3 linked regions of the Homo sapiens genome follow. The protein of the gene in region 1 purifies or fractionates together with the protein of each later gene. This does not show direct contact. Each region holds a gene or a part of one and is shown in the gene's direction. Other genes may lie near its edges.

Region 1 (4,304 bases):
AAAACCTCCTCTCTTCCTTCACACCTTCCTCTGAATCCCACCCGGTCCCACCTCCTGAACCTATCCAGACACCTTCTCCTGACCCAGGCACCACCTGCTTTCGGGGCGATGGCCGTAGCCTCCTCCCAGGCACCTGTCTGCATCCCTCTGGCCAGTGCATGCTGAGCACGTGACCTACCCGTGTTGGGACACGTGAGGATACAGCCTTGACCCCCAGGGGCTGACATTCTAGGGGGAGATAGAAGGAGACAAACGTAGAAGGTAGAATAAGTGGGTGGTGGAGTGGCAGGGAGTGCTGAGTGCCACAGGAAGTCAGACAAGGAAGGAGAGTGTGGGGCAGGTGCCGTTTAAATGGGGGGCGCTGGGGTCTCCTCACAGTTGCTTCTCAGCTCAGCTGTGCCAGGATCTTGTTGAGTCAGGTCAGCTGCCCACAGCCCTCTTGCCTGACCCCTGAAGCCCAGAACTCTGATCTTCACAGCCCTAGGTATGGCCCCAGCACCCCACTGCCCTCTCTCCTGCCCCAGCCGACTGCTGTTCCCAGACTTCCCTGGCCACGCTCCAAGACGCCAGCTCTGCCGCGGGCACTTTGTTCTCACGGTGTCCTCCATGCCTGCAGGGCCCATGCATGGGAAGTTGCGTTGGCGGCCTGGGTGTTGGCGGTTCCGTGCCTGCTCCAACTCTCCGTGAGGCCCCTCTCCCAGAGCCTGACACACTCTGTGGCCGAACTCTAGGCAGGTGCCCCTGAGTCCTTTCCTCGACGAGGCCTGACCCCATCCCCATCCTCGCTGGGCCCGCCGACCCCGGTGTTAGCAAGAATCCTCTAAATCAGTTTATGGAGAATTACCCACCCTCGATATCTGATCCCATTCCTCATCTCCCACCCTTGATCTCATCACCCTGCCGGCCTCCTGCAAGATCCTCATTGAGCCACTCCAGTGAGAATCCCCCTACCCTCGAAGGCCGCCCTAACAACTTCCCATCCGCTGACCCCTCCAACGCCATCAATCTCCAGCTGTGGTTGTTGAACTCGGAGGTGAGCTCCTCTCACCACTCTCTTGAATAAAGCTTTTCTCACCATTTTAACAAGTCCTCAGAATCATCTTTTCTTAACAAGCTCCTGCCCCACCCAGAATCACGGGGGGCCTGGGGACAAGTTTTCACCTCCTGAGATCCAGTGGGGCAGCCGGGGAAGGGGTGGTGCAGAGGGGGCGTGTGCTTGAGGGTGGGGTCTTGGGTCTGCCCCTACTTGTGGGACCCCACAGAGGGGTCTAAGGCCAGGGCCCAAGTGGGAGGCTGGGCCCACAGATAACCCTAGGCAGGTCAGCGGCTCGGGACAGGAGTGTGAGGCTGAGTCAGGGCCAGAGGATGTGGGACTGCTGGGGGCTGCTGCTGTGCTGACACATTAACTCCCTGAGGCCGGGAGGAGGGTGGATGGTCATTTATTACTGCGGACACTTATGTAACCTGGGGTGTATATAGGAGCCTGGCTGAGGACACACTCGCCAGCCTGTGCTTTGCCACCTGAGCGCCGCTCCCTCTCAGGATGAAGGTGACGGTGGTGAGTACCCAGACCCCATGCAGAGAGGCTCTGCTGACTGCTCTCCTGGTGGCCAGCCACTCCCGCCCTCTTCTAGCTGGCACTGGCCAGCCCTCCTCCTCCGTCCAGCTGGGCAAGAGCCAGCGGCTGCCGACCCCCAGGCTCCCTGTGGACTCAGTCTCCTCCCAAAGCCACTTCCACCCCTCAAGGGTGGCCATGGGTGCCGCTCAGGCGTGGTGTCCCCTGTACCCCGGAAGCAGACGTCTGCTGACTTTCGCTTTGCAGATGAGGACCTGGGAGTGAGAGCTCCTGGGACTCGCTGAGGCCAGGGCAGGGGCTGGGATGATGGCGTGGGAGAGGCTGTGTCCTCGCGTGTCACCCACCAGCCCTCGAGCAGAGGCAGGCTTGGAGTCTGCAGCCACCCTGGGAATGTCTGTGCTTCCTCGTGGAGCTGACATGATGGTGAAATAGGTTCAATCCTCCACCTACCCAGGGCCCAGACCCTTCCCTGGTCTACCGACCTGATGTGGACCCAGAGGTGGCCAAAGACAAGGCCAGCTTCCGGAACTACACGGTGAGTACCTTGCCGTCCTGCCCCCCTTCTCCCCCATCCACACCCTGGGGAGCAGCACTTGCCCTTCACACAGTTCCAGGGGGTGCCCTGTGGGAACTCCCACCCCCATCACACCCTGTGGGGCTGCCTGGGAGAGGGGAGGCATGGGGCCTCGTGTGCAGGGTGGGGGTGGCGCCACTGACCCTCCGGCCTGCAGTCAGGTCCCCTCCTGGACCGTGTCTTCACCACCTACAAGCTCATGCACACGCACCAGACAGTGGACTTCGTCAGGAGCAAGGTAGGCGTTTCCTGCCGCCCCGTGCAAACGCGGAGGGACCCTTGCCCTCAGCCCCATGAGCCCACCAGGCGCCGAGGGGATGGAGAGGCCTGTGTGGTGGGCCTGCTGACCCTGGGCCACACTGCCTTCTCCTTCCCCGCCAGCATGCCCAGTTTGGGGGCTTCTCCTACAAGAAAATGACAGTCATGGAGGCCGTGGACCTGCTGGATGGGCTGGTGGATGAGTCGGACCCGGACGTAGATTTCCCCAACTCCTTCCATGCCTTCCAGACAGCGGAGGGCATCCGGAAGGCCCACCCAGACAAGGGTGAGCCCTGGCTGTGCTGCAGGGGGGCAGGTGCTGCCTCCAAGGGGCAGAATGCAGCAGCCTGTAGGGTGGGAGGGGACAGTAGTGGGCCCAGGCCTCCTCCAGCAGCCCTGCCTGGGTTGGGGAGCAGGCCCTGGACCCTTCCTGGCTCTCAGCCCCGCAAACCTGCTCATCCTCTGCCTTGGCCCCTGCAGTCCCCAACCTGCCCTGTCCATCCCCCTCCCAGACTGGTTCCACCTCGTCGGGCTCCTGCACGACCTGGGGAAGGTCCTGGCCCTGTTCGGGGAGCCCCAGGTAAGAGTTGGAAGTGGAGGGTGAGGAGGCTGCATGTTGAGGCAAGGTGGGGGTGGAGTGGCCTTGGTGCTTGGCCTGGGATACTACCTGGGGGACAGGCCAGTGCACCCCCCACGGCCCCCCGACGGCTGCCTGTCCCTCTGGTGGCCTCGGTGCTTGGCCTGGGATACTACCTGGGGGACAGGCCAGTGCACCCCCCACGGCCCCCCCCACGGCTGCCTGTCCCTCTGGTGGCCTCGGTGCTTGGCCTGGGATACTACCTGGGGGACAGGCCAGTGCACCCCCCACGGCCTCCCCGCACCACTCCCCCCACGGCCCCCCATGGCCGCCTGTCCCTCCTGTCACTCTGCAGTGGGCGGTCGTCGGCGACACCTTCCCCCACTTCCCCCACGGCCCCCCATGGCTGCCTGTCCCTCCTGTCCCTCCTGTCCCTCCCATCCCTCCCGTCCCTCCTGTCCCTCCCGTCCCTCCCATCCCTCCTGTCCCTCTGCAGTGGGCAGTCATCGGCAACATCTTCCCCCACTCCCCCCATGGCCGCCCGTCCCTCCTGTCCCTCTGCAGTGGGCAGTCATCGGTGACACCTTCCCCCACTCCCCCCATGGCCGCCCGTCCCTCCTGTCCTTCTGCAGTGGGTGGTCATCGGCGACACCTTCCCCCACTCCCCCCATGGCCTCCCGTCCCTCCTGTCCCTCTGCAGTGGGCTGTCGTCGGCGACACCTTCCCCGTCGGATGCCGTCCGCAGGCCTCCGTGGTTTTCTGCGACTCCACCTTCCAGGACAACCCTGACCTCCAGGATCCTCGATACAGGTGCTCCCTGCTGCTGAGGGCTGGGCCCCCTTCCCTGGGCGGCTGCTGAGCCCTCCTCACCCTGGTATCTCACTGCAGCACAGAGCTCGGGATGTATCAGCCCCACTGTGGGCTCGACAGGGTCCTCATGTCCTGGGGCCATGATGGTGAGGCCAGAGGCGGGCAGTGGGGCGGTGGGGGGCGGTGGGGGACGGTGGGGGGCGGTGGGGCAGAGGCAGTGCCTGCTGGTGACACCCTCTCCCCACAGAGTACATGTACCAGGTGATGAAGTTTAACAAGTTCTCACTGCCCCCTGAGGTAGGTGGGGGGAGGGGCAACGCAGCCCGTCCACCAGGCCCGGTCCTGCAGCCCCAAGTGAGCCGCTGGGTGGCCTTGCCCGCAGGCTTTCTACATGATCCGGTTCCACTCCTTCTACCCCTGGCACACGGGCCGCGACTACCAGCAGCTGTGCAGCCAGCAGGACCTGGCCATGCTGCCCTGGGTGCGGGAGTTCAAGTACGCCCCGCTAC
Region 2 (3,725 bases), on another chromosome or scaffold:
GGTTGAGATTCAATCCTTGCATAATGGTTATTTTCAGATTATTTTATGGCGGGAAGGGGAGATGCTTCTAACTTTTTCCCTTGATTATGAAGTATCTTACAGTTCTTTGAAGACAATAATAAATATGGCTAGTGTTTCTTGAGTACAGTCAGCCCTGTACTCAGTATCTGTGGGTTCTGCATCTCTGGATTCAACCAACCTCTGATTGAAAATATTCAAGAAAAAAATTGCATCTGTACTGAACATGTAGACTTTTCCCCATGGATTTTGGTATCTGGGGAAGGTCTTGGAACCAGTTCCCTATAGATACATAGGGACAACTGTACTTACCATGTGCCAGGCATGTTGCTGGCACTTCACATTTAGTGACTCATTTAATCCCTTGAACAACCCTATGGGAAAGGCTCTATAATTATACCCAATCCATAGATGAAGAAAGTGAGGCACAGAGAGGTTAAGTAACTGACTCAGTGTCACACAGCTAGAAAACGATAGCCAGGATTTGAACCCAGACAGGCTGTGTCCAGAGCCACAGAGAGTTCTTCACTGCCATGCTTTTCTGTCCTGTTGATGTCCTTTGCCTTAAACTTGCGTCATCTTCTCTAGGCTCTCTGATGAAATGCCCTAAAAGTGGGCAGTTATTAAATGATTTTCAAGTGGAAAACTGCATGGGAGTTTAGGAAAACAAGTAGTCCACACCCTAGAAATGTTGAAAACTCCGCAGGAAAATGTTCATCAGCTTTTGAACATGCCACTGATTTGGCCGGGTGCAGTGGCTCATGCCTGTAATCCCAGCACTTTGGGAGGCCGAGGTGGGCGGATCACGAGGTCAGGAGATGGAGACCATCCTGGCTAACACGGTGAAACCCCCATCTCTACTAAAAATACAAAAAATGAGCCGGGCATGGTGGCGGGCACCTGTAGTCCCAGCTACTCGGGAGGCTGAGGCAGGAGAAGGGCGTGAACCCAGGAGGCGGAGCTTGCAGTGAGCTGAGATCGCGCCACTGCACTCCAGCCTGGGCGACAGAGCAAGACTCCGTCTCAAAAAAAAACCAAAAAAAAAACATGCCACTAATTTTTATTTGATTTGCTTTTTTTGGGAAAGCCAAGCGCCTTCTGTTTCCTTCTAAAAATGTGTGTGTGTGTTTTTGTTGTTGTTGTTGTTTTTTGAGATGGAGTCTTGCTCTGTCGCCCAGGCTGGAGTGCAATGGTGTGATCTCGGCTCACTGCAACCTCCACCTCCCAGGTTCAAGCGATTCTCCTGCCTTAGCCTCCCAAGTAGCTGGGACTACAGGCGCCTGCCACCACACCCGGCTAATTTTTGATATTTTTAGTAGAGATGGGGTTTCACCTTGTTGGCCAGAATGGTCTCGATTTCCAGACCTTGTGATCCACCCGTCACAGCCTCCCAAAGTGCTGGGATTACAGGTGTGAGCCGTCATGCCCGGCCCATAAAGTGTGGTTTCTAAAGCTGGTTGTCCCAACTTCATGAGGATAGTAGGAAGGTTTACATACTAAAGCACTTAGGGCCATGTGCTCATGCCTGTAATCCCAGCACTTTGGGAGGCCGAGGCAGGTGGATACCTGAGGTCAGGAGTTCGAGACCAGCCTGGGCAACATAGTGAAACCCTGTCTCTAATAAAATCCAAAAATTAGCTGGGCGTGGTGACATGGGCCTGTAATCGCAACTACTTGGAAGGCTGAGGCAGGAGAATCGGTTGAATCCGGGAGGTGAAGATTACGGTGAGCCACTGCACTCCAGCCTGGGTGACAGAGGGAGACTGTCTCCAAAATTGTAATAGTAATAATAAAAATATTAAAACAAAATAAAGCACTTAGAAAACAAGATGATTTGAGAAGTGTTTATTAAAAGAAAATGTGGGACTCATTTGTTTCCCTAATTCCAGCTGTCAATTAATTAGTGAAGTGTTACTTGAGGTTTTTTGATAGAATCTTCTTTTTCAGTTAAAGATTCTGAGTGCTTTGTTGGAGTTTCTTCATATCACCTATCATTTGCTTGTTAGCTTATCGATACCCATGGAACAGTTATTGACAGGACATTGGGTCGTTTTCCCAAGAGCATTCCTTGAATAAAACATTTTGCTGCCTTGCTAAGAGGTGTTCAGAAAATATTTCCACCAGGCCTAAAGTAAATCTAGCACCTCATGTCACATGACATCATGTCATCTAATGCTGCCAGTTACAGGAAAAGACATTAGAGTTTTGGGGACAAAGCCACAACACATCTGTTGAAATACAGCTAGAACAAGGGAGAAACATATGGGAATTGTCCAACTAATAGCTCTACCTTCACCCAGTCCGACTCCCTGCCTGCTCTTAAGGATTAAAATTGCCTCCGTATAAAAGCATTTTAAATTACGGCAGTTAAAGGCCGGGCGCGGTGGCTCAAGCCTGTAATCTCAGCACTTTGGGAGGCCGAGGCAGGAGGATCACGAGGTCAGGAGATCCAGACCATCCTGGCTAACATGGTGAAACCCCGTCTCTACTAAAAATACAAAAAACTAGCTGGGCGTGGTGGCTGGCACCTGTAGTCCCAGCTACTCGGGAGGATGAGGCAGGAGAATGGCATGAACCTGGGAGGCGGAGCTTCCAGTGAGCCGAGATTGTGCCACTGCACTCCAGCCTGGGCAACAGAGCAAGACTCCATCTCAATAAATAAATAAATAAACAAACAAACAAAAGAAAATACCATAAGCAGAAGACACAAAGAAGCTCCCATGGTGTGGCTCTTCATGTTTGTGGTAGATGCATTGAGACTTTTTTTTTATGCCTTCATATATATGTTTCTGATAAAACACACCTGTAATGTTTTTCACTGAAGAGTTGATTGAGAAAAGCTTTAAATATCATTTGTGGGGCCAGAGGCAAGAGTACAAATTCAGTTCCCATATCACATACCTAAACATTTAAAAGTTATAAACCATGCTTACAAATTGGTAAATAAAATGGCTTCTACTCTGCCTGGACAAATACATCTGTCATTAGGGCAGAATCAACAAACATGTTTAAAGCTATGGGTTTTATTGCTGAAAGTCAGCAAAATATCAAACATGAGTGAATTTAATTACAGTTGCCTATGTCTGGGTGTTCTGTTGATGTTTCATGAGTAATAAATACGTATACTCCATAGTATATTTTTCATAAATCTATTTTTTTGTCCATATTTTAGCAAACTCACTTGTTATGTGGTTAGAGTCAAGATTGTCACAATAGTTTGTTTTACGGACAGTAATACCAAGGTGGAGAACCTTTCTTTGTGGTTCTTAGATTGTTCTTTTTTTTTTTTTTGCTGGGACAGAGTCTTCCTCTTTCGCCCAGGCTGGAGTGTAGTGGCGCAATTTTGGCTCACTGCAACCTCCACCTCCCGAGTTCAAGCAATCCTTCTGCCTCAGCCTCCCACGTAGCTGGGATTACAAGTGTGTGCCACCATGCCTGGCTAATTTTTGTATTTACAGTAGAGACGGGGTTTCATCATGTTGGCCAGGCTGATCTGAAGCTTGTGACCTCAATTGATCCACTAGCCTTGGCCTCCGGAAGTTCTGGGATTACAGGCGTGAGCCACCCCACCTGGCCAGATTGTTCTTTTCTTAATCTAAGTCTAGAGATGGCCTGCTTTGCTGAGGCAGGACAGTAGTTACTGACATTGTCAGCGAAATTCATACAGCACTATTTAGATTAAAAAAAGAATGAGATTGCATATGATA
Region 3 (2,885 bases), on another chromosome or scaffold:
CTGGATGATGACCAAGGTTCCTTACTGCTATTGCTAGTCACAGGATTGAATCAAACAAATTACTTTGGAACCAAGTCCCCTAGTGATTAATGTATTGCTTAGAGGCAGAGAAAAATGATGGCAGCCAATGGAGGCTGCACTGCCCTGATCATCCAAGGAGGAGTCTGTGACCCTGATTTGGAGAGAGCAAGGTGGCTATTCATTTTCCTTGGCGAGTCTAATTATTCTCCTAAGTACTGAGCTCCTGGAAGGCTGAGGCTATGCCTCTTTTGTCTGCCTGGAACACGTGGTTGCTTGAATATGTTATGAGTGAATGAACTCCCTCTGTCCTATTCAGAGCTGAGAAGATGGGGGCCTTCTCAAGAGGGCTGAGACCACCCTTCTTCATCTTCCTAGAGTTATAGGCCTGCCTCTATTGTTTCAAACATCTTTGCTTACTCCTAGAGAGAGCAGGGGAAGAAGCGATGAGTGGGGTGTGTCTGGGCCATTACAGGAATTAGTGAAGGAGATGGCCCAGGAAAAGGCTCAGGAAGGGAGTATGTGGAGCTGTGTGTTCTGTAGATCAAATTGAGTTTGTGGCTTTCTCAGTCTGCAGGAGAATGGGGATGGGAGTGGGCAGTACCATAAACAGACGAAGGAATTTATTCTTGAAACTGATCTGGGAGGACTCTAAGATTTGTAATAAGTCTTTCACTATGCTTTGTTAATTTAAAAGGGTGAAAATACTCTTAATTTGACCTGTTTGTTTTCTTTAGCTTTTCAGTGTTCCCACCGAGGAGGAGAGCTGGGAATTTCCCTTCGTCCAGACGGAAGGGTTGACATTAGAGGAGGTGCAGCTGTTGTTTTAGAGGGCACACTGACAGCCTAGAGGTGGTTATGCTGTGACGCTGCTGTCTCTAACCACCAAGTATTTTCTGCTTAAAAAGAAATGTAAGGGGCTGCCTTTAGCAAATGTGCGTAGTAGTCTACTTAATCCTCATGTTAAAAATCGAAAAATGGGCCAGGCGCAGTGGCTCATGCCTGTAATCGTAGCACTTTGAGAGGCCAAGGTGGGTGGATCACCTGAGGTCAGGGGTTCGACACCAGCCTGGCCAACATGGTGAAACCTCGTCTCTACTACAAATACAAAAATTAGCTGGGTGTGGTGCCACATGCCTGTAATTCCAGCTACTTGGGAGGCTGAGGCATGGAGAATCGCTTGAACCCAGGAGGCAGAAGTTGCAGTGAGCAGAGATCACACCACTGCACTCCAGCCTGGGCAACAGAGTAAGACTCCATCCACACACACACACACACACACAAAATTGAAAAGTGAAGACATTTTAATGGAGATTTAATAGTGCTTCCAGACTAATGAACTAATGGAGTTTTGGCTCCACTCATGAGTGTATTTGAAATGTAAGTAACCAGCTACAAAGAATAATGTCACTTCATTTGATTATGACTACCAATCAAGAGAAGGAGGAATACATTTCTGAGGAGTGATACTAAACCATTTGAGCTTAAATGAGTACCTGATTTTGCAGCCATTAAAATGAGTCAATAACTATGTGGAAATATAGAAAAATATTTTATAATATAATACTAAGAAAGAGGACAGTAGGCCATAAAGTGTTAGCAGTGTTATGCTATGTCTATATAAATAAGCATGGGCCATTAAAAATAGCAAACTGAAAACAGTTCATGTGTGGGGGGCAAGTTTAGAAGTAATTTTAATGTATCTAAGAAGTGATTTCCTTTATTGTTGTACTCAGGTACGAAGACTAAAAATCAGGATGAATCCAGAAAATTAACACAAAAAAGTATGTATTAGGCTACTTCCTGTCATAGTGAAATTAAACACTCAAAGTAATGTAATCTCAGCTGGGCGTGGCGGCTCATGCCTGTAATCCCAGCACTTTGGCAGGACAAGGCAGGAGGATCACTTGAACCTAGGAGTTCGAGACCAGCCTGGGCAACACAGCGAGAACTTGTCTCTATTAAAAAAAAAAAAAGGAATGTAATTTCAATCTTTTTCTTGATATATGGCTTGAGAATGATAATGTAAAAGGAATTCTTCTCTTACTTCAATAAAATGGGTTTTAACATAACTTTAAATTCAGTTAAATATACAATATTGAATACCTATAGTTGACTTTGGGATGGGGACTTTTTCAAGTCATTAAGAGTGTTTGTTTAAGGTGATCTCATTGATGGTAGTTCTCAGCCGTCTCAAAAACTGCAAGCTAATCAGTCAGACATTCTTTAATGACCCCAATTTTTTCACTTTAATTGTTACCATGTTTTCTATTTTTACTGATTTTTGCTAAAGCATGTAAGAGTGAATTTATTATAGCAGTAATCTTGTGTTTCTCCTGATGTGCAATAAATCAATAATTCACCAGCTTTAATGCCTTAACTTACTGAGTAACCAGTGCCCCACCGCCCCCCAGAAGACCTCACAACTCATCACAACACACCCACGGGTCATGATACCAAGGGCGAGAATCACCAGAGGGTTTTCCCCCAATTTTGGATTTTCCAAACCTGAGACTGAACTATATGAATAAGTTTATATAAATGTACAGTTGAGAGGGCCTGAATTTGATCAGATCTGAATCTGATCTTTCAAATGTATGCTAAATTCTTTTTTTTTTTTGAGACAGAGTCTTGCTCTGTCGCCCAGGCTGGTGCCATCTTGGCTCACTGCAACCTCCGCCTTCCAGGTTCAAATGATTCTCATGACACAGCCTCCAAAGTAGCTGGGATTACAGGTGCTCACCACCATGCCTGGCTAATTTTTGTATTTTTAGTAGAGATGGGATTTCACCATGTTGGCCAGGCTGGTCTCAAACTCCTGGCCTCAAGTGATCCACCTGTTGTGGCCTCCCAAAGTGCTAGGACTA

Evidence for each region.
Region 2: the proteins of MIOX (region 1) and MYO10 purify together in Homo sapiens (affinity purification with mass spectrometry; one large-scale study listed by BioGRID and IntAct). This does not show direct contact.
Region 3: the proteins of MIOX (region 1) and PBLD purify together in Homo sapiens (affinity purification with mass spectrometry; one large-scale study listed by BioGRID and IntAct). This does not show direct contact.

Annotation. Positions count from the first base shown.
Region 1 is NC_000022.11:50,485,355-50,489,658, forward strand, and holds the start of MIOX (inositol oxygenase), read left to right. Parts: upstream 1-1,504; 5' UTR 1,505-1,543; coding exon 1,544-1,558; intron 1,559-2,027; exon of another isoform or gene 2,028-2,030; coding exon 2,031-2,111; intron 2,112-2,307; coding exon 2,308-2,388; intron 2,389-2,531; coding exon 2,532-2,694; intron 2,695-2,888; coding exon of another isoform or gene 2,889-2,920; coding exon 2,921-2,988; intron 2,989-3,340; coding exon of another isoform or gene 3,341-3,566; exon of another isoform or gene 3,567-3,659; intron 3,660-3,685; coding exon 3,686-3,795; intron 3,796-3,873; coding exon 3,874-3,941; intron 3,942-4,042; coding exon 4,043-4,092; intron 4,093-4,177; coding exon 4,178-4,290; intron 4,291-4,304.
Region 2 is NC_000005.10:16,926,289-16,930,013, reverse strand, and holds part of MYO10 (unconventional myosin-X), read left to right. Parts: intron 1-3,725. UniProt on the Homo sapiens protein: Myosins are actin-based motor molecules with ATPase activity. Unconventional myosins serve in intracellular movements. MYO10 binds to actin filaments and actin bundles and functions as a plus end-directed motor.
Region 3 is NC_000010.11:68,282,160-68,285,044, reverse strand, and holds the end of PBLD (phenazine biosynthesis-like domain-containing protein), read left to right. Parts: intron 1-755; coding exon 756-868; 3' UTR 869-2,385; downstream 2,386-2,885.